Linked DNA regions of Homo sapiens. The protein of the gene in region 4 purifies or fractionates together with the protein of the main gene of each other region. This does not show direct contact. Each region holds a gene or a part of one and is shown on either strand. Other genes may lie near its edges. The genes, in order: PHF20L1, CDC42BPB, LANCL1, SETD1A, TBC1D10B, NEK2 and KAT14.

What was found.
Region 1: the proteins of SETD1A (region 4) and PHF20L1 purify together in Homo sapiens (affinity purification with mass spectrometry, with the first as the bait; one large-scale study listed by BioGRID). This does not show direct contact.
Region 2: the proteins of SETD1A (region 4) and CDC42BPB purify together in Homo sapiens (affinity purification with mass spectrometry, with the first as the bait; one large-scale study listed by BioGRID). This does not show direct contact.
Region 3: the proteins of SETD1A (region 4) and LANCL1 purify together in Homo sapiens (affinity purification with mass spectrometry, with the first as the bait; one large-scale study listed by BioGRID). This does not show direct contact.
Region 5: the proteins of SETD1A (region 4) and TBC1D10B purify together in Homo sapiens (affinity purification with mass spectrometry, with the first as the bait; one large-scale study listed by BioGRID). This does not show direct contact.
Region 6: the proteins of SETD1A (region 4) and NEK2 purify together in Homo sapiens (affinity purification with mass spectrometry, with the first as the bait; one large-scale study listed by BioGRID). This does not show direct contact.
Region 7: the proteins of SETD1A (region 4) and KAT14 purify together in Homo sapiens (affinity purification with mass spectrometry, with the first as the bait; one large-scale study listed by BioGRID). This does not show direct contact.

Annotation. Positions count from the first base shown.
Region 1 is NC_000008.11:132,812,760-132,817,037, reverse strand, and holds part of PHF20L1 (PHD finger protein 20-like protein 1), read right to left. Parts: exon of another isoform or gene 3,848-4,278; intron 2,402-3,847; coding exon 2,149-2,401; intron 151-2,148; coding exon 1-150.
Region 2 is NC_000014.9:102,942,236-102,946,513, reverse strand, and holds part of CDC42BPB (serine/threonine-protein kinase MRCK beta), read left to right. Parts: coding exon 1-46; intron 47-789; coding exon 790-852; intron 853-2,026; coding exon 2,027-2,623; intron 2,624-4,278. UniProt on the Homo sapiens protein: Serine/threonine-protein kinase which is an important downstream effector of CDC42 and plays a role in the regulation of cytoskeleton reorganization and cell migration. Regulates actin cytoskeletal reorganization via phosphorylation of PPP1R12C and MYL9/MLC2.
Region 3 is NC_000002.12:210,455,811-210,460,088, reverse strand, and holds part of LANCL1 (glutathione S-transferase LANCL1), read left to right. Parts: intron 1-4,278. UniProt on the Homo sapiens protein: Functions as a glutathione transferase. Catalyzes conjugation of the glutathione (GSH) to artificial substrates 1-chloro-2,4-dinitrobenzene (CDNB) and p-nitrophenyl acetate.
Region 4 is NC_000016.10:30,974,193-30,978,470, forward strand, and holds part of SETD1A (histone-lysine N-methyltransferase SETD1A), read left to right. Parts: intron 1-4,278. UniProt on the Homo sapiens protein: Histone methyltransferase that catalyzes methyl group transfer from S-adenosyl-L-methionine to the epsilon-amino group of 'Lys-4' of histone H3 (H3K4) via a non-processive mechanism.
Region 5 is NC_000016.10:30,363,721-30,367,998, reverse strand, and holds part of TBC1D10B (TBC1 domain family member 10B), read left to right. Parts: intron 1-2,404; coding exon 2,405-2,504; intron 2,505-2,786; coding exon 2,787-2,894; intron 2,895-2,992; coding exon 2,993-3,099; intron 3,100-4,278. UniProt on the Homo sapiens protein: Acts as a GTPase-activating protein for RAB3A, RAB22A, RAB27A, and RAB35. Does not act on RAB2A and RAB6A.
Region 6 is NC_000001.11:211,668,845-211,673,122, reverse strand, and holds part of NEK2 (serine/threonine-protein kinase Nek2), read left to right. Parts: intron 1-1,838; coding exon 1,839-1,921; intron 1,922-2,715; coding exon 2,716-2,842; intron 2,843-3,790; coding exon 3,791-4,010; intron 4,011-4,278. UniProt on the Homo sapiens protein: Protein kinase which is involved in the control of centrosome separation and bipolar spindle formation in mitotic cells and chromatin condensation in meiotic cells.
Region 7 is NC_000020.11:18,185,536-18,189,150, forward strand, and holds the end of KAT14 (cysteine-rich protein 2-binding protein), read left to right. Parts: intron 1-1,750; coding exon 1,751-1,924; 3' UTR 1,925-2,500; downstream 2,501-3,615. UniProt on the Homo sapiens protein: Component of the ATAC complex, a complex with histone acetyltransferase activity on histones H3 and H4. May function as a scaffold for the ATAC complex to promote ATAC complex stability. Has also weak histone acetyltransferase activity toward histone H4.

The DNA.
Region 1 (4,278 bases), on a different chromosome or scaffold from region 4:
TGGAGAATACTTTCCCATCAGTGGCTGGAGAGGGAGAAGAAACCTTTTCTACAGAATCATCAGGCATGGGTAAGGTGGCTAAACGCTGAGATCTTCTTCTCCGCTCACTATGCTTGAAAGGTCTAGGGGGATTCACAGGCTGTGGAGGACCTAGAAAAAGATCTTCAATGTTCACGAAGCAGATACATACCAGGAGCATCTTACAATATTTAAGGAGATAAATGGGAAAAAATGATTTATATTCTTCCCTCTGATGTTGTTATAAGATATCCACAAGGAATGGCATGTTCCAAAGGTAATCAAAGGCAAAAATTGTGCCCTCATTCAAAATGAGTCAATCAAAAATTGTAAAATCTACACTCTACTAGAACTAAAAGAAAATAAAATGGAACATTAATTTCAAGTAGCTCCCCCAAGTGACAGACTACAGTTAATTTCTCTAATTGCAGATCGTTGTGTAAATTGCCATTTTTCCTTCGGGAAAATAGTCTCTTTACAGCAAAAGATAAGGAAAAATATATATATATGTATTCCTTTTGCTACATTGCAAATCTAGAAACTCTAAGGGAAAAAAAGGCAGGGACAAAGATGATACAACATTATAGAGTTAGTGATTTACTTTACACTAATGTAAATAATTTTATCCCATCATCATCCCCCCCAAATGGAGTTTTATAAACATGTCTGGGCCTGATTCATTAAAAAAAAAAAATGAACAAAAACAACTTTGTATACTTATTGTGAGCAAATAATGAGGATATTTAAGATTATGACATTGTGTACTTGTGTTTTTTAACAACTTGGTAAGTAATTTAGGCATCTTCTAGCAATATAATATAAATATTTGGAAATGTCTCTCACACTTTTAGATATCTTCTTTCTACATGGCATACAAACACATTTGACTAGAATAGGCAAGATTATATATGCCAATATATTCATGTTAATTTAGAAAGAGGAAATAAGAACAGTCTAAAGACATTGATGTTTGGGTATTTAAGAGTAATTTTACAATCAAAACGAAAAAGACATGCTGATAACTTAAAAATATGAAAGAATAAAATTTAATTGCTATAATATTGTGGTTATAATACCAAGATATAATTTCCAAAATAAAATGTTTATTAATGTCATATGACATTCCAGTGACTACTACTGACACTATTTCATGATAAATGCCATAATGAAATGAAGCTTATTAGGAAAACAATTGAATTATGTTCCCATTCTTTCCACCTATTAAAAAGAAAAAGCAAAACCTGATCAAAATGAAAAAATGATTCAGTAGAAAATATGGCAACTGAAGGAAAATAGGTTAATAAGTTTGATAAAAGTCTTCTGAATGCCAACATCTTTGATTATTCTGGAAGACACAATATGGAATAAGGAAACATGTCATATTCACTCAACTGATCATGTATTTCATTTTTTGCATAAAGAGCAAAAAAAACCATCATTTACCAACTGACTTTTCAAATAACTGTTATTCATGTCTCCAACTTAGGATACTAAACTAATATGAGAAACTCAGGGTCAACACAAATCTTGTATTATTTATATATACAGATATATAGGGAGATAGATAGATATACCCATGTGAAAGGTGTTTTCGAAAAAGACTGCGTTAACTCTTGAAAAATTAGAAGTACTGAAACAGTAAAATCTTTAAAAATACAATCATGGGGGCATTTTTTTTTCATTAAAAAGATTAAACTGAAGTCTAGACTATAAATATTATAATAAGAATGAATAAAATGTATTGCAGAGGAAAGTTATAGACAAGTGGGGACAAAAAATCTACAGGAATAGTCTTAAGTAAAAATAGCTATCCTGGGTCTTTTTATAACTTTTTTTTTTTGTAATGAATCAGGCCTCTCAGTATGCTTGGATTATGAGTTGAGGAGAGTCAAACTACAGTGGAATCTGTGTTATTAAATGGAAAGGATTCTCAACCAGCAGTAGTCTCTAAGCAATAAATCAGTAAGAAATGTCTATGGTTTTTGCCCCTGAAATAGTTTCAAGCCTTCCCTATCATATCCACTTGAGTTTTTAAAAAGCAACTTCATAAAAATACAATATAACTACAATCAAACTGTTTTTAATGTATCTTATAGGATAAATAACTATTTTTTAAAAATCTGTGCTCACTAGTTTTATTTATCACTGAAGAAGAAAGCTGAGATACAAGCGTCAAATCCTCGACTTGTATTAATTCTGGGGAAAGTGGTGATTTAGGGGGTTTTATACACCCAGAAGAATCTCCAGATTCATGTTTGCATTTCTTGCTGCGAGCCTTCCCTGAAGACAAAGTTGAGGATAACAGTGCAGGTTTCTGAGTGTTGGCAGAACTGCTAATGTCAGCTTCATTTTTTTTCTGACTTTGAGGTTTAGGTGAAATCGCCTGAATAAATAATAAAAAATTGATATTTTTATTTTGGCTTCTTCATTTTTGTTCTTGTATTCTATTTTGACTGTTAAGCAACTTTAGTATCCAGAAACATTGTTAAGCAACATATAACATTTCTATTACAAATGAAAAACCAAAAAGAACCCCACAAATTATTAACTAAAAGTTGAATAGGCTGTCTTTAAAGGGATGCTGTCAACTTTCAGTCTAAATTCATTTTTTAAAATATATTATTCATAATATTTTCGGAACATAAAATGTTATCTTACTGGACAAATATTTTCAGTATTAAATAGAAATATACCCCTTTAGGAACCATAATTGCCAATGACAATAATTCGAAAAATAAACAGCATTTTCATGTTTTAAAGGATTAGAGGAATACATTTAAGCTTTTGATTTTAGATGTTTTCTTATAAAATCTTTTCTTTTAAGTTGAATGTAAAGGTCTAAGTAGACAGATTCCCTTTAAAGAAAGATCTGAACAGGAAAAACAATGACCAAATTAACAAAACATTATCTTTAACTCATTTTAGTGCTGAAAGCTAGAGTTTCATAAGCACAATGCATCATGAAATCAGAGCCACCAGCAATATAGAGTTAAAAGACTAAAAAACAATACAAAACAAGCAACAACAACAAAAAAAAAACCAAAGAGATAAAGTGTAAGTTAAAAACATTGGATTTAAAAACAAAATACGTCGCATTCTTAGATGAGAGTTTTTACCTTCTTCCTGCCAACTGATACTTTTAAAAAAAAATTAGAACTTTGTCAGTTCTTTCATAAAAGATCATTTTTATTCATTTGGCTGTAAAATTTCCTACATATGTTAAAATATGTGTGAATGTGTCCATTTTTCAAAACAAGAGAAAATAACTACATTGGATGAATTTGCAATCTATGGTTCTGCAATACTTCTATCTCTTTCTGATATACTTATCTGAGAGCAAAATATATAATATGCATTTTTTGAAAATCTATTCTACCATAGGCCTTTATAAAGAATCAGACTGCTAGCACTATAAACAACATGCTTGTCCCCAAGAAATCTTTTTACTTCCATATCTTGTGGAGAATAACTATCAGGTCTGCTGTCTGCAGTTCTCTGGAATATGAACGATCATTTTCTGGGGACTAAATAAATAAATAATTCTGTTCCCACTGAGATACAAGTCAAATTTTGCTGGGGAAGAAAAGTGCATATTTGGTATTAAGTAGGGCACCTTCAATGCTCTATAGACAGCATGTTGGACATACCACATAAAAGGCCTGGTGTCAAGTGTCCCATTCATTCAGTTGTCATCATTTCTATTATTGAATTTACTCATTATAAATGTGTATAAGTGCAGATTAATTATTTGAAAAGGTACTTCATAAATGGATAGTATTCCTAACCTTATTATAAAAGGTGTTGCCAGAAAAGTAATTAGAGCCATTACTTGTAAATAAACAATTTTATTGTTCATCTTCACATATGTGAAAGACATCACTACAGCATCCATTACTCTCAAGTTACAAAGTTATAAAACAAGATTTTAAAACTTAATATCTTGATAAGGTGCTTAACTTCTAAACAAGGAAAAATTAACATTGTTTTTAAAACTTACTGAGTTATTATGCATCTAATGCAAGTTTTATCCAAAAGTAAATATAACATGACATATCCCTAATACAATTAAATAATCTATAATTAATAAGCTGAGAATTGGGGTTCAAGACCACAGTTTGAATTTTTAAAAAATATAAATAAGTCCATTAGCACAGTAAGTTTTGACTACAGGCCTGTTATCAATCTATGTCATGAGTGACATTACTTTAACTCATTAGGAAACAGAGGTTAGTAACAATCAATACCTCTCCTTTAGGTCTA
Region 2 (4,278 bases), on a different chromosome or scaffold from region 4:
AGCTCGCTGCCTCTCATCAAGGCCATCCTGACAGCTGCCATCGTGGGTACGTCCCAAAGGTTGTGTCCTTCAGGTGTCTGAAGCAACAGCACTTCCGGCGGCGCTGCAGTGCCCATCTGAAAATCAGATGAAGGTCACAGGTCCATTTGGGTTTGTAGACAGTTTCTCCATGCATGTTAAGAAGCAGACGAGGCCGGGTGCGGTGGCTCACGCCTGTAATCCCAGCACTCTGGGAGGCCAAGGCGGGCGGATCACAAGGTCAGGAGGTTGAGACCATCCTGGCTAACACGGTGAAACCCTGTCTCTGCTAAAAAAAAAAATAAAAATAAAAATAAAATATAGCTGGGCGTGGTGGCGGGCACCTGTAGTCCCAGCTACTTGGGAGACTGAGGCGGGAGAACAGCATGAACCCAGGAGGCAGAGCTTACAGTGAGCCGAGATCACACCACTGCACTCCAGCCTGGGCGACAGACCGAGACTCCGTCTCAAAAAAAAAGCAGATGACCTGTGCGGACAGTACAGTTGGCCCCGGCTAAGCCTGAGGGTCAGCTCCAGGAGCCCCACACACACCCAAATCCTTGCAGACTCAATCCCACAGTCAGCCGGCCCTGTGGAGTTCGTGTAGAGAGAAAGTCACCCCCGATACTGAAGTGTCACATCCCTGGAATGCTGTATTCTCATCCACATATGGTTGAAAAGTATCTGTGAATGAGCCCACCCACGCATTCAAACCCATATTGTTCACGGTCGGCTGTACTGACTTTGTGTATGTTACTTACCCCTCCACAGATGCAGACAGGATTGCAGTCGGCCTAGAAGAAGGGCTCTATGTCATAGAGGTCACCCGAGATGGTGAGTGAGCAGGGCGTTTCCAGCCTGGGATGTCACAGGCCCAGCCTGGCCTCTGCAGACAGCACAGGGTCAGTAGCTCCTAAGGGTTAAGACAAATGCGCTTGATGAAGGCGCCGGAGGGGCCAGCGTGCCGTGAAGACCGGCATCGAGTGCATGGCGACGCGGTGCTAAGTTGCGTATCACATCCATCGAGTTCTTCAAGGGGAGCACTGAGCGGGAGTGGGTGGGGGGTCAAGGAAAGCCCCCTGGGAGGAGGAACAGCTGCAGCTTTCCCACATGTGCTGAGGCTTCACTTGAGAAGCTTTAGTTTCTTTGCTTCCAATTTTGACACTTCAGTCTTCCCAGCGAGGAAGGGCAAAGGTATCCTGGCATGCACCCGCTCCACAGCCCTGGGTCTAGGAGCAGAAACGTCAGGAGACTGGAACTGGCCATGGGCAGGGGGCAGGGGCCCAGGGGAGCATCCCTCAAGGAATCCAGCGACATTTCATGTGAGCCATAGTCCTTTCCCGACAGACCCAGCATCTCTGCATGTGATGGCCGTGGAGCGAGAAGGGCGGGGCAGCCGCTGGGCGAGGCCGTACCCTGGCAGCTCTGTGGGGAGATCTGAGCAAGCGAGGGGCTTGGGTTAGCCTGGGGGCCGTGTGAGGGCGGCGTCTTCACTGGGGGCCGTGTGAGTGTGAGGGCAGTGTCTTCACTGGGGGCCCTGTGAGGGCAGCGTCTTCAGAGGATTTGTCTCAGGGTCCCAGTGGGTTGGGGACAGCTCTTTGTCCCTCATGTGCAGCGTGAGGGCCCTCTGGTTCGGGGATGAGCTGGAAGGAGGCCCAGATCACCCCAGGGCCTTGCTGCGCGAGGACCCAGGTGGAAGCGCTGCCCAGCTGGAGCCCTGGTGCACTGAGGGGTGTGCACAGCAGCAGAGGCAGAGGAGCCTTTGGACCAGCCCCCGAGGCTGCCCCAGGAGCGCGCTGTGGATGTGGGGCAGCTTCTCCGGGGGGCGTTCAAGCCACTGGCTCTGTGGGCAGAGACGGGCTCAGGGCCGGGCTCAGGCTGTGCACACAGGAAGGGAGCCCAGGGGAGGGCCCCAGAGTGTTCCAGGCAAGTCTTTAGCCAAGGCCGTCAGCCCCTGGGAGCTGCTGGCTGTCCCGTCGGCCTCACGCTCTTGTCCTCCTTGCCACAGTGATCGTCCGTGCCGCTGACTGTAAGAAGGTACACCAGATCGAGCTTGCTCCCAGGGAGAAGATCGTAATCCTCCTCTGTGGCCGGAACCACCATGTGCACCTCTATCCGTGGTCGTCCCTTGATGGAGCGGAAGGCAGCTTTGACATCAAGCTTCCGGAAACCAAAGGCTGCCAGCTCATGGCCACGGCCACACTCAAGAGGAACTCTGGCACCTGCCTGTTTGTGGCCGTGAAACGGCTGATCCTTTGCTATGAGATCCAGAGAACGAAGCCATTCCACAGAAAGTTCAATGAGATTGTGGCTCCCGGCAGCGTGCAGTGCCTGGCGGTGCTCAGGGACAGGCTCTGTGTGGGCTACCCTTCTGGGTTCTGCCTGCTGAGCATCCAGGGGGACGGGCAGCCTCTAAACCTGGTAAATCCCAATGACCCCTCGCTTGCGTTCCTCTCACAACAGTCTTTTGATGCCCTTTGTGCTGTGGAGCTCGAAAGCGAGGAGTACCTGCTTTGCTTCAGCCACATGGGACTGTACGTGGACCCGCAAGGCCGGAGGGCACGCGCGCAGGAGCTCATGTGGCCTGCGGCTCCTGTCGCCTGTAGTATGTATATGTTTTCTGTTGCATATCCCTGTTGCTGCTTTTCCCACCGACAGTCAGCATGTGTTCGATTTTGCTTTGGTTTGTCTTCCAGTCCCTTAGTTGAGTAGTCACAGAGCATCGGGAGAGGTGGGCCCCATGCCAGCCCGCAGCAGAGAGCATGGTTCAGATCTCACGTCTCAGACCAGCAGTAGGCGGGCTCAGCAACCTCTCTCCCTGAGCACATGGGGCCGGTTCTTCCAGAGGCCTCAGCAGAGGACCCCGTCGGCGGGCATAGGCCCCTGGGCAGAAGGGCTCGGCGAACCGAGAACGGGGCGTGGCATTCATCTCTCATTTAAAAGGCCTTCCTCGTGATAATACAGAAACTTACACAGTAGTAAAGACAAGCTTGAGGGGTTTTGGTGGCCAGAAAATAATTCACCTCTGGTGTCTTAAGTTACAGTCCCTCTAAGGACAAGTATTTTCTGAAAGTGGTAGGGGCTGTTTTTCAAACAGTTGGGTCACTGAATTCGCCTAGTTGGCATGACTTTCTCTATGAATGGTGGCACTGGGGAACAGGTAGGACCAGTGGACACTTCCCGACTGGCCCGCTGTCCGATTGCTTTTAAAACCTTAAACCGGGTGGAGAGCGGTGGCTCACACCTGTAATCCCAGCACTGTGCGAGACTGAGGCAGGAGGCTCACTTGAGCTCAGAAGTTCAATACCAGCCTCATCTCTACTAAATAACAAAATATGGCTCACACCTGTAATCCCAGCACTTTGGGAGCCCAAGGCAGGGCGGATCACGAGGTTAGGAGATCGAGACCATCCTGGCTAATAGGGTGAAACCCCATCTCTACTAAAAATACAAAAAAAAATTAGCCGGGCGTGGTGGCGGGCGCCTGTAGTCCCAGCTACTCAGGAGGCTGAGGCAGGAGAATCGCTTGAACCCAGGACACAGAGGTTGCAGTGAGCTGAGATCGCACCACTGCACTCTAGCCTGGACAACAGAGCGAGACTCCGTCTTAAACAAACAAACAAACTAGCCAGGCACGGTGCCACATGCCTGTAGTCCCAGCTACTCAGGAGGCTGAGACAGGAGGATTGCTTGAACCCGGGACGCAGAGGTTGTAGTGATCCAAGATCGCGCCACTGCACTCTAGCCTGGGCAACAGAGCAGGACTCCGTCTCAAACAAACAAACTAGCCAGGCACGGTGCCACATGCCTGTAGTCCCAGCTACTTGGGAGGCTGAGACAGGAGGATTGCTTGAGCCCAGAAGATGGAGGCTGCAGTGAGCCATGATCACACCACTACACTCTAGCCTGGGAGACAGAGTGAGACCCTGTCTTTTAAAACAGAAAGGAAACCTTAAACCTCAGAATCCCTCTGATCTATCAGAGTGGCCTGCACCATCAAATCCACAGATCAAGAGGAGGCCGGGAGGAAGACGAGCCGCGCATATGGGGGTAACAGGCCAAGAGTTGGGGAATGACATTCTCCCTCAGTTACCTGAAGCTAAACCCCTTTGTCTGCCCCATTGTCAGCCTTGCTGAGACGGCATCATACCCAGGGCGTCGTGGCTAGACACCAGGCCTGTGAGGTGCACGGCCAGCTCCACCCACGGGCTTACTGCAGTGTGTCCCGGCTCCATCCCGATGGCCACACCACAGCAGACA
Region 3 (4,278 bases), on a different chromosome or scaffold from region 4:
GGAGATTTTTATCTCCATATGCATATGAGACACAGCAAGGTCTTGATTGGCCAAAATGAATAGGACTAATGATCCGTCAGAAATTCAAAGGCTTAGTATTAATTACTTCTCAACAGCTGGCTGTATTTATAGTACTGCTTGGCATAAGTTCCTGAGTAAGGAAATTGCAGATTTAGAAGTGTCCCTAAATAATTTACCCTCCCATCCCCAGGGTAGTAGCTACAGGAAAAAAAAAAAAATCTAGTTCACAGCTTTCGTGCTGAAGCCAGGACTGATTCCTATTACAACAGGAATTTTATTTGGTCCTCACAGCATGTTTGTTTGTTTGTTTGTTTGTTTGTTTGTTTGTTTTTAATAGTTATCAACATTTCAAGACCAAGAAATTCTTAGGGTAAACTGACAGGCAGTGCCAGACTTCCTGAACTTCTTGTACGGAATGACATCTATTCCTGGTCTTCAGAGCAGTACTCTCCTTGGAATGTTCTGCAGTAATGGAAATGTTGTTATTTCCATCGCGACAGCCACTAGCCACATGTGGCTATTGAACATTCTAAATGTGGCTAGCATGACTAAGATTGAATTTTAAATTGTGTTTACTTTTAATTAACTTATATTACTGTAGACATTTATGGTTAGAGGGTATCATACTGGACACTGCACTTCTAGATGAACCAGGCAGGTTGCAGGAGTAGTAATTCAAAGTACTATACATCTGGATGTGTAGATTTTCTTCTATGTTTTCTTCTAGTTGTTTTACAGTTTCTGGTCTTAAGTCTAAGTCTTTAGTCCATTTTGAGTTGACTTTTGTATATAGTATAAAATGAGGTTCAAATTTCATTCTTCTGCTTGTGGATATACATAATAGTCATACTTACGAATATGACATTTAGTAACACCATTTATTAAATATAAAATAATTCTAAACTCTAGATCAGTTTAGAGCAGATTTTTACAATTAAGTTCAATCAAAATTTAAATCTCATTCAAGTTTTTTCTGGTCTAGAAGAGAAGATGAAGGGAAGGAAGCATGTCTCCACTCTATTTTTTGCTTAGCAGACAGCACAAAAGGAAATGTAATGTGATATTCAAATTTAAGCCCAAGAATACACTTGGCTAAAACCGGCTTTTGTCACATTTTAAAGTAGATGCATATTCTTTGATAAAAAGATGAAAGAAAATATTAAAAAGATGAAACTGCCTACATCATTCTTTGTCAAAACTCGAACAATTTTGGCTGTTATGTTAGAAGTCAGTAGAAATGTTTTTTCTCATTAAGTGTCCTTCAGAGAATAGAATCATATTTGGGAATGAATTTATTAATGGATACAACTGTACTCTTTCCTCCCAAACCTGATTCTCCAACAGAGGGGTTTGCCATCTCAGTGGATGGCACCATTTTCCATTTAGCTGTTGAAGTTAGTCATCGGGAGGCATTTTGACATCTTCTTCTCCGCCATCCCCCACCAGGTTCTGCTGATTTTACTTTCTAGACAGGTATCTTTCCAGTTCATTCTGACAAGATCTGTATTGCACCACCCACCCTGTGTCTCGCTCCTACTCCTGAAGCATCCTCCTAACTGTTCCTCCTGCATCCACTGTTTCATACACTCCCTTGCAAACCTTACAGTGCAGTTATGGTGAACTTTTAACAAAACAAATCTAAGTATATTCTTCCCACGCTTAAAATGGGTGCATTTCAAATGAAACTCCAAATCCTAACTGGCCTGCTAGACTCTGTGTAATCTAGCTTCTGCCTGCCTCTCTAGCTTTGAGAAGAGCTGTCTTCCTTAGGATTAGGCCTACCAGGACATGGCAATACATCTAAAATAACAGTGGCTTTAACAGAACCGAAGTTTATTTTTCTCTTATGTAAGTAGGCAATCCATGGACTGGTGTGGCAGCTTCACAGTCCTCCAGGATTAGGTGGCTTTGATCTTTGAAACTTTACCACCCTCAGCACAGAGCTTCCAACTCATGGTCCTTAGACGATGACTGCTCTAGCTGCACCATCACATCTGTATTCCAGCCAGGAAGAAAGTAGAAAAGGAAATAAATCGCCAGTGCCTTCCCTTCAAGAACATTTTCCAAAGTTGCCTCCACTACTCCCACTGCATCCTGTTGTTCAGAACTTCGCCACATAGCCATACCCGGCTGTGAAGAAAATTGTTCTTAGCAGCCTGTGCCCAGCTAAAATCCAGGGCATTATTGTTGAGAGAAAGGCAAGATACATTTGGAAAACCACTTACTCTCCATCACAAGAGCTAACTCCTCATTTTCTAGAGTAGAATATGAGTCAGAAATATCTGACATAGAAAACTTAACAGATAGCACATAAGCATATTATTAGAAATAGACAGATACTAGAGAAAATGGCTGAAACTGATGAAAATGGTTGCCTCTGGAAGGCAGGAACACAGTAAACCAGAGGACTGGTGTTTTGCATATTAAATCTTTCAGTACTGTATAATTTTTTCCATGAAGAACATATATATTTTGATAAACATTGCATTTGAAGGCATTTCTAGGCATTGACTGAAGCCAGGCCCACAAGTATGTATTAGGACTGGGTGAATTTTCCCTGCAAAGCCCGTGAAGTTGTGTTTTTATTTCCCACCTTGCCAACCATCCCTGAGTCTTTGGTATTGATTCAAAGGTGGTGGTGTATGCATGGTTATTGTCAACAGTTGAGGACCATAAAGATCAGGTTTAAGACATTTGGCCACAAGCAGTCCTCCCTTTTTTCTGTCATTAGGACACATTCTATTATTTTCTATTATATAAAATACTGATGAGGTATTAAATGTCTGTGACATAATACATTTTGTCTTATTTTCCTGACCTGGGCTGATTTATAATAAGCATGTGCAGGAAACTTTTTCTAATTGGCAGCAGCACTCACCACTTAAAGTCCTTTTCCACCATGGATGTTCTGTGACAGGGAATGTAGACACAGTAAACTATCATCTGCAGAAGATTGCTTATCAAAATCCACAGACCCAGAGGCCCAAATGAGAGGTAGGGGAGAACTGGAACATGAGATTGTGGAATCCCAGAAACTAGAAAGATAATTCTCTGCCTATCAAAAAGAAAGTTTTAATCCAAATGTACTCTTGTGAGACTTGAGAAATGATTACCTGTTTTTCATGAGAAATACACCAAATCTTACAATTGCAAGCCTTAATAGGTTTTGTTTGTTAAATAGTTAAGCCAAGAGGAATTGTTGCTAATGAGAGACAAAGATCTGAAAGAAAAACAATCACTGGGCTTGTGTTTAATCACTTTTTATTTTCTCAGATCTCCATCATGTCATTATCTGGCTTTGGTGCTTACATAACTTAACTAGGAGAGTTCAGGCAGCAATGGGAATAGGAGGGCAAAATGAAAGGTTAACAATTTAAATGGATCACCTGCAGATGCGTGATATGGATGGAGATGAAGCCTATTAAGGACCTAATTTTAGAAGAAGCTCTTGACATCAATCATTTGTGAAAAGGGTTTTTTTTTTTTTCTTACCTACACACAAGGTTTTGTACACTTGTCTACAAACCTTAAGCATTGATGCATCTGATCATCAGCTTGTGGGATTACTAACACCAAGCCACTTTGAAAGAGCAGTCAAGGTTATTAACTTTGGCAGGAAATGAAAATTTGGCCTTAATATACATGTGAAATTGAATTGTCTGTAGCACAAAGCTTTGGAGATTACCCATGCAAAATGAGAAAACTATCTAAATTTAAAATTGTCCTCAGTACAGGGAAAGTAATTTTGCAGACAGCATTTTTACTGCATTGAAATCCGTGAAGATTGGCTCTATTAATTTAAATTTAAACAGAGGTTCTGTGTCTTCTAAAAATCGCAAATGAGATGGAAAATGTACTTCAAGGGAAAAAATGGGTTTCTGGATATGCTGCAGGCAGGCAGGCAGGCTTCCTACTCCACATCTTTGAGTCTGCCCTGAGACCAGTTAGCTTCAGAGGGAAGGCTCTTTCCACTGTGACAGGCATTTGAAATAAGGACATGCAGACAATGCCTCTATTACATATTTCAGGCTTCAAGAGTAGGGTAAGAAACTGATCAAGTAGAGCCCAAGGCAAAAGTCATTGGTGGCTTTTACATTACATTTACCAAAGTAGGTGGGCCCTCGACAGAAAAAAATCTAGGGGTTGAATATTTTTTCTCAGCTATCAAATAACTTTCTTATAATCCCTGCCTGGAAGGATACTGGGGCAGGGGATTTGGTTACATTAACTACCTTTTCACAAAAAAAAAAAAAAAAA
Region 4 (4,278 bases):
GGAAGAAAACCAGGATTAGGAAGAAAACTGATGAGTGTAGTTGAGGTTGCATTTGAGGTGCCCCTTGGGCTTCCCAGTAGAAACAGTGGCAGTTGGATCCATGGATCTGGGGTCTGGAAAGAACGGTAGGCTGGATATGAGGTCGGTGCTTAGGTCTTGAAAGTGTAGCAGTGAATTCACCTATAGACCCAGGTAGGCGAGTGGGGGGAGAGAAAGGGCAGAGCCTTCCCATCCTGTGAGAGCAGTGGGCAAGCAGGGCCCGAGGAGGCTGAGAGCGGTGACCAGAGGCGAGAAGGGAAGCAGGTAGTGGAGAGGCTCTGCAAAGCAGGGAGTGGCCTTGTATCACCAGGCCACCAGCAAGGCTGAGATAGGAAGTATCTGTTGCATTTGACAGTTAGGAGGTCATTGGTGACCTTATCAATTTCAGTTGAGTGGTTCAGACTGAAGCCAAGTTACAGGGTGTTAAGGAATGAGGGGAGGGCAGTTTTCTGGAAGGGTGGACCACTCTTGCTGAGATAGAAAGGAGAGTTGGGGCCGGGCGCAGTGGCTCACACCTGTAATCCCAGCACTTTGGGAGGCTGAGGTGGGCAGATCACTTGACGTCAGGAGTTCGAGACCAGTCTAGCCAACATGGTGAAACCCCATCTTAACTAAAAATACAAAAATTAGGCTGGGTGCGGTGGCTCACGCCTGTAATCCCAGCACTTGGGAGGGCTGAGGCGGGCAGATCACGAGGTCAAGAGATCAAGACCATCCTGGCCAGCACCAACATGGTGAAACCCCATCTCTACTAAAAATACAAAAACTAGCTGGGCATAGTGGCACATGCCTGTAATCCCAGCTACTCGGGAGGCTGAGGCAGGAGTAATCGCTTGAACCGGGGAAGCAGAAGTAGCCATGAGCCGAGATCGTGCCACTGCACTCCAGCCTGGTGACAGAGCGAGACTGTCTCCAAAAAAAAAAAAAAATTAGCCATGCATGCTGGCAGGCGCCTGTAATCCCAGCTGCTCAGGAGCCTGAGGCAGGAGAATCACCTGAACCTGGGAGGTGGAGGTTGCGGTGAGCCGAAATTGTACCACTGCACTCCAGCCTGGGCGACAGAGCGAGACTTCGTCTCAAAAAAAAGAATTGGGGGTTGTGATATCAGCTCCCATGTGTCAAGTACCTATGTGTGCCAGGCTCTAGGCATAGCATGTTGACAATTCATTTTCTCATTGAATCCCCACAACCTCTCCCTTTTTTTTTTTTTTTTTTTTGAGATGGAGTCTCATTGTGTTACCCAGCCGGGAGTGCAGTGGTGCAATCTCGGCTCACTGCAACCTCCGCTTCCCGGGTTCATGTGATTCTCCTGCCTCAGCTTCCCAAGCAGCTGGGATTACAGGTGCACACTGCCACGCCTGGCTAATTTTCGTATTTTTAGTTGAGACAGGGTCTCACCATGTTGCCCAGGCTGGTCTCAAACCCCTGACCTCAAGTTATCAGCCCACTTTGGCCTCCCAAAGTACTGGGATTACAGGTGTGAGCCACTGCGCTTGCCCCACAACCTCCCTGTGATTCCCATTTTATAGATGAGGGCTTCAAGGCTTAGTGAGATGCAGGAACAAACTAAGGTTACCAGCCAGAGCTGGAGGGAGAGCAAGAAGAGAGGGCAGGGTTGAGGGAGGGGTTAGCTTTTCCAAGTAGATGAGGTTTGGGCATGTTCCACTGAAGGGAACGGGCCAGGTAGATGTGCCGGGAGAGAGGAATGCTTGCTGGCATGGCCTTTTTGGGGAGGTGGAGGAGTAGCTTCCAGATCTGATGCAGTTATACCCTTCGGTGGGGAGGCAGGGAGATGGGGGTGTTGTGCCTGAGTCCTCTTTTGACCCTGTTGCTGTAGGACTGTGAGAGGAAGAGTGGAGTAAGAACCTTGGAAAGTGGAGAAAAGTTGCTCCAGTCCAGGCGCGGTGGCTCACACATGTAATCCCAGCACTTTGGGAGGCCGAGGCAGGAGGATCTCTTGAGCCCAGAAGTTCGAGACCAGTCTGGCTAACAACAACAACAAAAAAAGCCAGGCATAGTGGCACATGCCTGTGGTCCCAGCTTCTGGGGAGGCTGAGTCGGGAGGATTGCTTGAGCCTAGGAGGTTGAGGAGGCTGCAGTAAACAGTGATTGTGCCGCTGCACTGTATCCTGGAGACAGAGCAAGCCTCTCGCCTGGGCCTCCCCATGCTGGAAGGCCTTGCCAGAGCTGGGGCCTGGGAGTGAGGGGAGAAGAGGCTGCTGGCTGGCTCCACAGGGTAAAGGTGTGGTGGAATGATGAGGACCTGGGGCTGTGCTGGGACAGGAGAGGGCAAAGTACGGGCCCTGGGGTCTGGGCAGGGTGGAGGAGGAAGTTGGGAAGAGGGTGATGTGCTAGAGGGAAACTGAAGGATGGGAAGTTGAAGGTGCAGTGGGGCAGACTGAATGGACAGTGGGGAATGTTGGAGAGGATGGGGAATCTCCAAGGCGGAGCCATTCTGGGATTGACAAGGCCAGGTGTGTGGCTGCTTGAGGGGAGCTGAGGGTGATTGAAGGGGATCACTGGAGATGCAAGAATCCAGGTAAACAGGCGTGATTGCCAAGTCCCCTGGGGAGGTGGCAGAGGTGGAAGAGGAGAGGAAGATGCAGGCAGCCCCTTGGTGTCTGGATAGTGAGAGGGCACGACAAGGGAGTCTGAGTTACCGAGGACAGAGGAGCCGTGGCTCAGAGCAAGGGGTGCTTAGTGAAGGCTCACTGTGTTTCTTCTCTTTTTTTTTTGAGATGGAGTCTCGCTTTGTCACCAGGCTGGAATGCAGTGGTGCCATCTCGACTTACTGCATCCTCAGCCTCCCAGGTTCAAGTGATTCTCCTGCCTCAGCCTCCCGAGTAGGTGGGACTAAGGCACGCGCCATCACGCCCGCTAATTTTTGTATTTTTAGTAGAGACGGGATTTCACCATGTTGGTCAGGATGGTCTCGATCTCTTGACCTCATGGTCCACCCGCCTCGGCCTCCCAAAGTGCTGGGATTACAGGCGTGAGCCCCCTCGCCCGGCCAGCTCACCGAGTTTCTAATAACCAGAACCAGTTTCAGTCACCACCGTCTTAGTGATTGCCGCCTGGGGATGTTAGTGATGGCCCTGGGGAGGGGCAGGTTATGCAGTAGGAACTGGCTTCTGGGGCCTCGCCCCATGGACCTGAGCGTGGCAGTAGAGCAGTTCTCAGAGGAAGGTGGTGGGAGTCATATTGACTGGGCAGGTGCCCCCAAAAGTTGTCTCCTAAATGAGAGGGATGGGCAGGTTCCCTTTGGGACAGTCGCAGAGGGAAGTGTGTGTGCAGCAGCTGTGCTGGTGGAGGAGTGTGTTCTTCGAGCGAGGCTTCCCGAGGACATGCATGCTGAAGCGTGAGGTGGTCTGTAGGGGGCGCTGCCCCAGCGTGGTGGGGAGGAAGGTGAGAGGAGGCCTGCATGCATCTGGGTCCTCACTGGCTTCCTGGAGTGGGTTGCTGCCACAGGCTGAGACCCCAGCGGGTGTCTAGAGCCTAAGGTGCAGCCAAGAGCCTGGCTCAGGGCGCCAGGGTTGGGAGTGCGGTGGACTCAGGTGAATCGCTGCCTCCTAGGGCCGGGCCTGGTGCCGGCGGCCCTGTTGGCGCTGAGCGGGGAAGCCAGTTGTGAAGCCAGTGAGTCCGTGGGCTGCAGTTCAGAGCATGAGCTCAACCCACATGGCCTGGGAGCAGAGCTTGTTCTGTCATCTGGTAACTGACCACATCTCTGTGCCTCAGTTTTCCTGTCTGTAAGATAGGACCCTCTGCTGGGTACAGTGGCTCACGCCTGTAACCCCAGCACTTTGGGAGGCCGAGGCGGGCAGATCACGAGGTCAAGAGATCGAGACCATCCTGGCCAACATGGTGAAACCCTGCTTCTACTAAAAATACAAAACTTAGCTGGGTGTGGTGGTGCATGCCTGTAGTCCCAGCTACTCGGGAGGCTGAGGCAGGAGAATCGCTTGAACCCGGGAGGCGGAGGTTGCAGTAAGCCGAGATTGCGCCACTGCACTCCCACCTGGCGACAGGGCGAGACCCCATCTCAAAAAAAAAAAAAAAAAAAGATAGGAACCTCTTTGGGCTGTTGTGAGGATTACATGAGTTACTCTACGTAAGAGGTGTGATTGGTGTTAGGCACAAAATCCATTGGGCTGGCTCTGAGAGCCTCATGCAGGCTTTCCCAGGGATGGCGGCCAAGGGAGGATGCACTCCCCGTCCTGAGGGTACGCTGGGGAGGCAGCA
Region 5 (4,278 bases), 610 kb from region 4:
CAGTGGCTCTCTCCTCAATAGCAGGCTGTCCTGAGGAACTCGGGCTGAACTTAGTTTGGGGGAGTCCCTCTTGTGTGCCAGGCACTATGCCGGGTGCTGTTTCTTTGCTTTGTAGCTTTGTCCCTGTAAGATCAGCTTCAATGCCAGAGAACTCTACCTCTTGGGCAAGACTGACTGTAATCCATGTTACTTTCGCAGCGTTCAGTGGCTCGCTGCTGTCCACAGGATGAAGTTCAGGCTCTTTGGCCTGCGCATAGCCTCTCTGGTCACCTTTGCCACCATTCCTCACCGGGTGCTTTGCGCTGTGGTCCTGCTGAACTAGTTGTAGTCCTTTCCCCTTCATATTCAGGCTGTGCACCTGCCAAGGGTGCTCTTCTCCCCTTTCTTTGCCTGCTAAGTTCTACTCATTTCTTCATGGCTTACCTCAGATGTCCCCTCCTCCAGGAAGCTTCCCTGATACCCACTGCCCCCACTCCAATTAGATGTGTCTTTGGTGCATCTTTGTCATTGCATTTCCCATGCTGTATTACAGTTATCGCTCCTCTTAGGCTGTAACCTTCTTGAGGGCCAGAAGGTATCTTACTCTTCCCAGCCCTTGGTAGAGTTTGTAACCGACTTATGATAGAAATTAATGAGAGATGGTCTCTCTGTTTAAGGAGCTTCTAGAACAAAGGAAACTAACATTTAACGAGCCCCTTCTATTTAACAGATGTTTATATGCAGTTTCTCAATAGTCTTCTCATAACTTTGTGATGTAGGTGGTGGTGGTGTTTTTTTTGTTTTGTTTTGTTTTGTTTTGTTTTTGAGACGGAGTTTTGCTCTTGTTGCCCAGGCTGGAGTGCAATGGTGCGATCTTGGCTCACTGCAACCTCCGCCTCCCAGGTTCAAGCAATTCTCCTGCCTCAGCCTCCCGAGTATCGGATTGAAGACATGTGCCACCACACCCGGCTGAGTTTGCATTTTTAGTAGAGACAGGGTTTCACCATGTTGGCCAGGCTGGTCTTGAACTCTCGACCTCAGGTGATCCGCTTCTCACTTCTGACACCTCCGCCTCCCAAAGTGCTGGGATTACAGGCATGAGCCACCATGCCCGGCCCGGTGGTGTCTTTTTATAATTGAGGAAGGGACTCAGGTCATCCCTTGACAAAGCTCCCTATTGTCTCAGAGACAGAACTGAAATTTGAACTTAGGTAGGTTTGATTCTTAAGACCCAAGCTTTCTTCCGTTCTACTCACCTCCTAGTACTGGCTCCTACAAGTAAGTGTTTGAAGAATGATGGGGCACCATGAGTATGAACCTCTGACAGAACAGTGAGTAAATAGGGCAGGGAGTCCTTTATTTGCCTGGGGTGATTTCAGGGAGGAGGAGGTAGAGTAAATTGCAGGTGACCCAAGGGATCTTAAACATTTGATAGGACAAAACTCAGATGGTTGCGTCTAAAGAGACAGAAGTACATTTGTTCTGTATTTTATTTTATTATTATTATTTTTTTTTTTGATGGAGTCTCGCTCTGTCATCTGGGCTGGAGTGCAGTGGCACAATCTTGACTCACTGCACCCTCCGCCTCCCGGGTTCAAGCGATTCTCATGCCTCAGCTTCGCGAATAGCTGGGATTTCAAGCACGTGCCACCATGCCTGGCTAATTTTTGTATTTATAGTAGAGACAGGGTTTTACCATGTTGTCCAGGCTGGTCTCAAACTCCTGACCTCAAGTCATCCGCCTGCCTCGGCCTCCCAAAGTGCTGGGATTACAGGTGGGAGCCACCATGCCCGGCCTATTTTATTATTTTATTTTTATTTTTTGTAGAGACAGAATCTCGTTATGTTGCCCAGGCTGGCCTTGAACTCCTGGCCTCAAGTGATCCTCTTGCCTCTGCTTCCCAAAGTGCTGGGATTACAGGCATGAGCTACCATGCCTGGCCCTCTAGGGTATTTTATTTTATGGATAGTAAGGTATTACTTAATGGGCACTTCGCTGTGTGTTATTTCGTATAAACCCCTTCGGGTAGATATTGTTACTTTCTCCACCTTACAGATGAGGAAATTGGGCTTAGCAAAATTAAGTGATTTGCCCAAGGTCACACAATGAATAAATGGTAAAGCTAGGACGTGGATCCAGATCTAATGCAAAATGTGGCTTTAAAATACTCCATACTCTCTCCCCAGATTTGGATGTGTCAGAAGTGAGATTTAAATATGACCTCTGAATAGAGATCCATCAGGGAAGGAAGCCCTTTCAGTGTGCCTTGGGATGCCCAAGTGGCCAGACATCCTGATGTTTGGCAGCTCACAGACTATCCAGTTTCTCGTTTGAGCTTGGGGAGGTGGCTTGCCTCAGTTCCCCCTGCAATGCAGGTTTTACACTATTGCTACTGACCCCTTCCGTGCTCCCCCGACCCTGCAGAGAGAGCTCCATTCCCGTGGACGTGGCTCGGCAGCGGGAGCTCAAATGGCTGGACATGTTCAGTAACTGGGATAAGTGGCTGTCACGGCGATTCCAGAAGGTTTGAGGGCTGAATGGTGGGCAGGGCAATGCACAAGTTGGGAGGGGTAGCATGTGCTCCAGGGAAGCCCAGGAAGCCGATAATATCTGCCCTCTGGACCACACTGGGGATAGATGGGCCCTGGCGGGGGAATGGCTTTAAAAATAGAAGTCCAGGCCAGGTCCAGTGGAATCAAGCCTATGGGATGTCGGAGGAGTATCCAGGGAGTTTGTGGACTGCTGGGGAAAGGTTGGAGGCTGTGCCAGCCCTTGAAGCTGTCCCCCTCCTGCCACTTTGCCTTAGGTGAAGCTGCGCTGCCGGAAGGGGATCCCCTCCTCTCTCAGAGCCAAAGCCTGGCAGTACCTGTCTAATAGCAAGGAACTTCTGGAGCAGAACCCAGGAAAGTTTGAGGTGCGTGCAGCTCCAAGGTGTGGGGACATGTGGCCCTGTCTGTGCAAGGGGTATCAGTTCCCCCAGATGCTGAGGTAATCCCCACTGTCCCACTGCAGGAGCTGGAACGGGCTCCTGGGGACCCCAAGTGGCTGGATGTGATTGAGAAGGACCTGCACCGCCAGTTCCCTTTCCACGAGATGTTTGCTGCTCGAGGGGGGCATGGGTAAGGTGGCCGGACCATGGGGGTCAGTCAGCAAACATTGGCTGGAGGATCCACCTTTTAGCTAGGTGGATACAAGACTGAGTCGAAAGTGGTTTTTGCCCTTCAGGACTTGTAGAAGAGCTATCTGTAATGGACTAAGTGTCAAGCCATGTCAAAGGAACTGTCCTGGGAAGGAGACTTGACTCAGGTTGTGTGTGGGGGCACGTCATGGGCTCCTTGAAGAGCTTGCATTTGGGCTGGGTTTTGGAGGGGTGGGAGCTACAGCAGTGGGGCAGGGTTTTCCTGCCTGGGGGTTATGGAAAAGATCACCAGGGACCCTTAAATGCTATGCCAAAGCATTTGGAATTTTGTTCTATAGACCAAGCTTCCTCCAGATGTCAGTATATACTCTTCTCTAGTAGTATGCAAGATGATCATCTTAGGGAGTTCTCTGATGGACTTTTTTTTGTTTTGTTTTTTGAGATGGAGTCTCCCTTTGTTGCCCAGGCTGGAGTGCAGTGGTGTGATCTCAGCCCACTGCAACCTCTGCCTCCCAGGTACAAGCAATTCTCATGCCTCAGCCTCCTGAGTAGCTGGGATTATAGGTGCACACCATCGTGCCCAGCTCATTTTTGTGTTTTTAGCAGAGACGGGGTTTCACTGTGTTGGCCAGACTGGTCTTGAACTCCCAACCTCAAGTGATCTGCCCGCCTTGACCTCCCAAAATGCTGGGATTACAGGTGTGAGCCACTGCGCCTGGCCAGATGGACTTTTTGTTCTTTCTTTTCTTTTTTTTTTTTTTTGAGATGGAGTTTTGCTCTTGTTGCCGAGGCAGGAGTACAGTGGCACGATCTTGGCTCACTGCAACCTCTGCCTCCTGGATTCAGGTGATTCTCCTGCCTCAGTCTCCCAAGTAGCTGGCATTACAGGTGCGCGCCACCACACCCGGCTAATTTTTGTATTTTTAGTAGAGACGGGGGTTTCACCATGTTAGCCAGGCTGGTCTCGAACTCCTGACCTTAGGTGATTCACCTGCCTTGGCCTCCCAAAGTGCTAGCGTTATAGGCGTGAGCCAACACGGTCAGCCGGACAATTTTTTAAATCAATAATTCATCCTTTAGCAAATATTTATTGAGCATCTGCTATCTACCAGGCACTGTCTAGTCACAAATGATTGCAGTGAACAAAAAACCAAAAACT
Region 6 (4,278 bases), on a different chromosome or scaffold from region 4:
CATCTTTTAATGTTAAGCATTCTGAAGCAGGGAAATTGAGTTTTCTGTTTGTTTAGTAATATCTAGTAGCCAAGAATTGAAAATACTGTTATATTTTTCCACATGGACCACCAGACCAATAAAGTCTATATCAGTTTTTGTTTGCTGCATGAGTTATGTGCATTAATGTAAGTATGATGAAGACAGATTCCTAGTCTAAGGTTTGCGCCGTTTGTCATCTCTCACTGGGTTCAATTTTTTGAGCATTCATGCAAATTAAAGCATATTCAGTTCAAGCTTTTATGGAATGACTATGATGCATTAAACTCAAGGATTACAAAAATGAAATGGATTTTGTCCTTGCCCTCAAGAGTTGTTTCCCAATGTGTAGGTCCTAGTTATCTGCATCAGACTCACTTGGAGTGTTTGTTTAAAATGCAGAGTTCTGGGTCCCAAACCCAAACCCAAATCCATCGAGTGAATTTCGATCTCTGGGTGGGTTCTTGAACTCTGTTTTTTTTTTTTTTTAATATTTTACTTTTTATTTTAGACTTTGCATTTAAGAGGCTCTGTAAATGATTCTTGTGTATGCAGAATCAGAGCTCAGGAAGTTTGCTCACTTCAGATAGCATGTTTTTACAATGTTAACTTTTTGTACATTTTATTTTTTTGTTGCCTATCCCTGAAATATCTTGCTGAGTCCACTCACCAATTACCTCTATTGCTGGATATTTTGTTTCCAACATGTTTCACCATTCTTAGAAGTACTGCTCTGCATATCTTTGTATGAATTATTCTTTCTTCCTTTTTGGTTATTTCCTTGGAGTGTAGCTCATAAAATGAAATTGCTGGGGTAAATGTTTATGGCTGTTATTAGATATTGTCTGATGGCTTTTAAAAAGTTTAAGTCAATTGTGATAGCACTAATGTGTTAGTATATAACATCTGAACAGATAAAGATGAAGAAATATTTGTTAGTATTTTAGTAGTTCACCTTTCTAGGATTTTCCAAATATTTATAAATTATGTTAACAGATCTTACTATAGTATAAAACTTTGTAAATTAATGATTTTGGTTTTGACTAAAAATAGCCAGAACAGTACCATTTTCTCACTGTATCAAATTCCAAATAGAATGTTTTTAACATAAAGGACAATTATCCAGAAGTGGTTCTTGGGAAATTTGAAACCTATTCTTTTGTTCCTTTTCCCTCCTGCCCTTGTAATTAGAGTGGTTCAGCTTTCCTAAGGCACTGATTGTCAAAAAGTGGCATCAGACTCACCAGTTGGACTTTAAAACACTAACCAGCCACTAGAGATTGCTTCTATTCCCTCTGTTGAGAATAGGAGCTCTGGTAGGCTGTTGTTACTGTAGATGTGGAAGAAAGGCAAACAATAAAATAGGTAAGGATAATATTAGTTACTACTGTGATTTATGGAGTGGACTAAGACAAAATATAAATGGATAATTCAATTAGCTATTTATGTCTATATCCATTTAAATGTGGACTAGATACATATTTTGACTATTCTTAAATTTCCTCTAGTTCTTTTAAAATGGTGTTTCTTAATTTGCCTTGAGAGTAGAAGTCTCTCATATTCACCTCTGTATTGTCAGTGCCTAGTCTATACTAAGCACTTTCATTTGTGAATGGAAAATGAGTGAATGAATTATGTATGATGGAGTGTATTGGAACAAGATCATTGCCTTTTTTCCATTATAAATTTCAAGATAAAGTATAAGCTAAAAACTTTGAGGTTCTGTTTTTATCTCAGGAGTAATTTAATGTGTTTTTTAAGTTTCAAAACAAAATAAACTCTTAACACCTTCCACTTTCTTACCCTTTTTCCCTGTATAGGAACAAATGAATCGCATGTCCTACAATGAGAAATCAGATATCTGGTCATTGGGCTGCTTGCTGTATGAGTTATGTGCATTAATGTAAGTATGATGAAGACAGATTCCTAGTCTAAGGTTTGTACTGTTTGTCACATTTCACTGGGTTCAGTTTTTTGAGCCTCTGTGCTAACGAAAGTATATTCAAGTCTGAAAGAATTGTACCCTGGGTAAAATTAAGGTAGATAGATGAACAGGCTAAAAGAAACTATTCACAAATTAAAACTATAAGCCATGAGGCTGGGTCTTGACTGTTCAAGGGTCTTGGCTGGTTAGGTGCTTTCTTATTAGATTGACACTTAGCTCAAGGGAGAGCACATAGGTCAGGCAGGTAAGGTAAAGCTACTGTAAGGATGTGGAAGAAATGAAACAAGACTCGGGTAGAGGTCTGGGGATCTGTAGAGCAGGGAAGAGCTCCAATTCTTTTCCTTTGTTCTTCTTTTCATTTTCTTTCCCTTTGAAACTATTCTGTAGAGCAGTGATTCTCAACTAGGGATAAGGGAAGCAAATTTGCCTCTTATGGGGCATTTGATGATGTTTGGATAAATTTTTAGTTATCACAGCTGGGGAGTGCTTCTGGCATCTAGAGGGTAGAGGGCAGGGAGGCTACAAAATACCTATAATGCACAGGACAGCCCCCCACAACAAAGAATTATATGACCTCAAATGTCAATAGTGCCAAGGTTGGGAAACTTACTTATAAGAAGAAAATCCCAGAAGTAGAAACTTAAATACAAACTGGAGCTTAAGCTGTGCTTTTGATTTAGTTCCTATTGTATATTTTCATTTTTACAATTTGAAAATGTCTTCGTCGTCTTCTTCTTCTTTTTTAACCCTAGGCCTCCATTTACAGCTTTTAGCCAGAAAGAACTCGCTGGGAAAATCAGAGAAGGCAAATTCAGGCGAATTCCATACCGTTACTCTGATGAATTGAATGAAATTATTACGAGGATGTTAAACTTAAAGGTAAAGATGATAAGATGATATATTGTCTGTTTCTAGCTGTCAGTTAAGTGTCAGAGCATACATTCTCTCTTGTAGATCAATGGAGACTGAAGAAACGTTAAATATACTTTCTTAGCTAAATTTACTGTGTTAACACAAGTGAAAACATATGTAAATTTGGCAAATTGCACATCCTTGCTGGCCCACCTTCTGCGCTTTCTTTATTTCTCCTCCCACTCTGTCATGCTAACAGATGGTCGGTAGCAAGGAAAGATTGCAAAAAGAATTCAAATTCTCGTTCCCCTTGTCCTTGCCTACCTCACAGTGGCAGGTAGTGAGGGAAGGGGCCAGAAATAAGAGTTTATTACTCTGCCTCTAGCTCTAATTGAGAGATTAAAGACCAGAAGAAGGGGAGGGGTGATGGAGGGCGGACGGAGGACAGCTAAAAACAGAGGGAAAATCAATAAAGAGATTATGTGGAAAAACTCTGGCTATAGAATGGGGAAGGAGATGTTCTGGGGACCAGGCTGACATAAGAGAAGAAGGAAAATGCCGTAGGATCACAGAGAAGGATACAGATGAAGTGACAGGATTGAGAGTCAGTGAGAGAGTATCTTGCTAAATGTAGTTTAGAAATGCAAGGGCAGTACTTCCCCTAAAACAGACCCTAGCAATGCTACCAAGCCCCAGCACAAGATGTGCCAATCTTCAGGGATTGAACCTTCTTAGAAAGGTGAAAAGGGGAAAAGGGAAAAAAGGTAAGTTAACATCTGCATTACCTTGTGGACCCAGAACCTCATGAGTTAAAACCACCAGTGAACTTATTTTTCCAAGTTTTTAAGACCTAGCCATAAAGGAGTCCTTTCTTTTGTCTTGGAAACACATTTTTGTCCTTTTATTTTAACTGCTGTCTTAGGAGGACTATTCTGTTATGCAATCTGACTATAATACTGAGTATTTTTTCCCCAGGATTACCATCGACCTTCTGTTGAAGAAATTCTTGAGAACCCTTTAATAGCAGATTTGGTTGCAGACGAGCAAAGAAGAAATCTTGAGAGAAGAGGGCGACAATTAGGAGAGCCAGAAAAATCGCAGGATTCCAGCCCTGTATTGAGTGAGCTGAAACTGAAGGAAATTCAGTTACAGGAGCGAGAGCGAGCTCTCAAAGCAAGAGAAGAAAGATTGGAGCGTAAGTCTGAATGGGGGTCAAAGCAAAGGAGAACTACCAAGTGGGTTATTTTGATGTGTCTGAATATCTCTTTGAGCAGAATATTTTATACATACAGATCTTATTAGAAGCTTTTGAAAAATACTTGAGAAACCAAAATATGTATTTTAGACTTTTTAATAATCAGGCTTGCTGGCACCTTCATGTTGGACATCTTTCTCTGAGATCAGTTGCTAGTTATATATTATTGGGCCTTAACTGTGATGGCCCTAATACGATAGCCTTGTAT
Region 7 (3,615 bases), on a different chromosome or scaffold from region 4:
CTATCACTGTATAAGGCTGATATGAACCTTCTAAGATTTGATTCTAGTATTGAATTATAATTCATCCTTTAATATATTTGTATCACCTTTGAAGAAAATACACCATATATCACCATCAAAAAACATGCAAGGATTTTTTTCCCCTAGAATTTTTTTTAGTCAACTTTTACTTAGAAACCATTTGGTATGGAGGATTATATGTTTATGCAGGCAAGATTCCTTTTAAAGAGGAGATGAAGATGATAAAAGTTGTTTCTCCAATTTTTAATGAAACTTGCTTAATAATTCCCAAATGTTGGCAGGAACCTTGGAACCATTTTCCTAGAAATTGCTTTCCTTCTCTCCTTAGGCAGTGATTATGTAAATCACTCACTGAGTAATTAATATGTGCTACTTTGGGTGGTGGTTTTCTCTTGAGAGCTTCTCAGTTATTTCTACAACACTCCCTTTCTCTGCCCCATCCCAACCAAGAGTTGATCTCTCAGTATGCGTCTTTTTAACCTAGGAGAGCACTTAGAGGATTTGCTGCCGTATCTGTCACTGGTAAGGGCCTGAAGACAGGGCACGAATAGTACTCTGTCCTTGTGTGTGTGTGTCCTTGGTGCCCAACATGAGGGCTGGTACAGAGTCAGTCCCTGCTGAGTGTTTGCGAGGCCACTGGAGGAGTGGTTCATCTTTGCAGGTGGGCACCTTCCCCTCCAGCCAGACCATACCCCTGAGGGCCCAAACATAGGTGGCGCACAGTCGCTGGCACTCAATGATGGCCACGGTGAGATCACGTATATTTGCAATCTAGCAAACACCAATATGACCCCACAAAATTTGCTTTAAAAACTCACAAAGTGCTCTTGTCCCTGGCATACTGGTAAGTGCTCTCTTGTCCTAAAAATGCCTATGGATACACATGGAAGTTAAGCAGAGAAAGCAGGTAGCTATCAGATGACTGTCAACAGAGGAGTTCTTAGAGGCCTGAGAGAACCATGGGTTATAAATCTCAAGGACTCTATCAACTTCAGTATTTCAGTGCCTTCTTTATTAAAAAGTAAGTTCTTAAATGATATGACTTTTGGGACACCTTACTCTGTGTAGCTGATTAAAGAATCTAAGGACTTGCCTTGTGTTGATAGAATGATTGTTACTCTTTTCCCCTAAGATTAGGTCAAAGCTGAATGTAGAAATCTCAGTTCTAAGAAGCTAATTCTGTCAGTTTTAGAGAGACAGAAGGTGGACTTTGGGATTCAGAAGGTCTATACAAGGGCCTCAGGTTTTATAATTACATTCTTAATATTTCATGTTTGTGCATGTAATTTAGCAGGCCTAGTAAAGGAATTTTTACAGGTTTTGGGGAGGTACAAGATAACATCTAGTTTTAAAAAGCAAAACTTATTTTGTTTTGTATTTATTCAAGGTTATCATAGTGTTAGGTATTGAAATGTTTGACATATTTAAAGGTAATTGAGTTGTAAATAATAAAGCTGACAATAACAATATCCCCATTGACCCTTTGCTTCAAAGAAAAATAAAAAACACCCAGAATACTATCAGTTTCCTTGGTCTTGTGAATGTTTTGATCAGCAGCAAAATGTCATTCTGTTTCCAGCTGTTGCTAGGTGTTGCAATGTCTCAGCCTCAGTCTCTGATTTCTCCGGTTTCCATAACTAACTGCCTACACTTAAAAGCGTTTCTTTACCTACTCATTTTCCCTCAGGCCTTTCCATTTTTATCTTGTATTTTTCCACTCTTTTGGCAGACCTGCATGGGCAAGGACGTAACCCTTCACGTCTCAGCAAGCAACCCCGCTATGCTACTGTACCAGAAGTTTGGATTCAAGACTGAAGAATATGTATTAGATTTCTATGATAAATATTACCCATTGGAGAGTACAGAGTGTAAACACGCATTCTTTCTGAGGCTCCGGCGCTGATGCGAATACAGCTCACAGAGAAACGCATGTGCTATTGGAGAACAGGTCTTTGTGGAGATCTAAAGGCAGTGATTGATTTCACAGGGAGCTCTAATCTCTGTGATTACATGGTCCTTCAAACTCCCAACCAAAGTGAGAAAAGCGGCATGCAGTGAAATGAGCAGTGAGCAGCCCTTTAGCAAAATCGCCCTCCAGTCCTTCCTGGAGATGCCTTCAGCCAGCATCCCAGACTCCACAGTTATTTATGAATGATGTCGTGATTCTCCCTCCACCTGACAGTTTGTAAGAGTGAAAGAGCATCTAACCTGATGCTCTTGGAGAGAGATAACCTGTCTGTCATAACTTAAAGGATGAGAAAATGTGGTGTAGCTATTAAAGATTCATGCAGTCCCAAAAGGCACTGTCCTGGGATGATGAGAGATTATAAGGTGATTTCATAAAAGGAATCCAACCCTGTGCCCGGCCATTGATGTGTTGTCATTGAATCCAGGAGGATTTCTAGGGCACTGAAGTTTTGTTGTTTCTTTTGCTGACTTTGGTTACAGTCAGAAAAAATAAACTAGATGTTTGTGTCTACATGTTCTACCTGTTGTACCTATTAGCATCTTCCTGCAGGGACTTGGGCCCATGGCCTGGGAGGTTGGTTTGGGATTGGGGTTGTTGGGCAGCCTGCCATTCACCTGGCCTATCCTGGCCCTTCTCATGCCCAAGACAGTTGTTTCACAGGAGTGGAAGTGTGGGTGATGCAAGTAGAACCCTCTAGATGTACCCTGTGTGGTCTGCAGGACTGGACTGTTTGCTGTGTTTGTGGATGTTGGCGATAGACTGTCAATTAGGTTGTTTGTGATCCAACAAGAACATTTCCAAAAGTATCTAGGTGTTCTCAAATAAAAAGCTTTCTTTGCACAACCCATGGCCAGAGCGTCAATCTAGTCAGTTTGCTTTCAAACCCTCTTTAATTAAGATCAGTGGTTCTTAACTTTTTGGGACATGGATCACTTTGAGAATACAAAGAAAGCTGAATACTCTCTAGAAAACTGTCATGCACATTTAAAATTTTGCATCAGGGATCTGTCGACCACAAGTTAAGAACATCTGTTCTAGAAGCTGTACTTGCAGCCAGCTCGAATTCCTTTGTGAGAGAGAATGTGTTGAGCTCCCACATTAAGCCAATCTGGAAGCTGTTCAGTCATCTGGGGAAACAGTTGAGGCTCCATTTCATTTGTGAGAGGAACTGTAGCAGCACTGTCTTATCTATTTCTTTCCTTTTCTTTACCTCCTACCCTGCCTCCCAAGAGTTTTCTGCCTCTTTGGAAGGTTTTTGTTGACAGAATGGATTGTAACACCACGAAGTAAAATTGAGGAGACAACATTTCCACATCTGTAAACCAGCTTGTGATTGTTGTATGTGAATGTCAGGCATTTGTTGTTGCAAAGTGGGGGCTCAAATAATTGTCTCTGTAACTTCAGGGAGCTGAGGAAAGCTGTGATTGCTTTTACTGACTCTGTTTCACTTTTTTTTTTTAATTTTGAGAAATTTTAAAAACCCTTTTCATTTCTTTTTTCTTTTTTAAATTTTGAGACAGGGTCTCACTTTGTCGCCCAGGCTGCAGTGAAGTGGCACTGGCGCAATCTCAGCTCACTGCAACTTCCGCCTCCCAGGTTCAAGTGATTCTCCTGCCTCAGCCTCC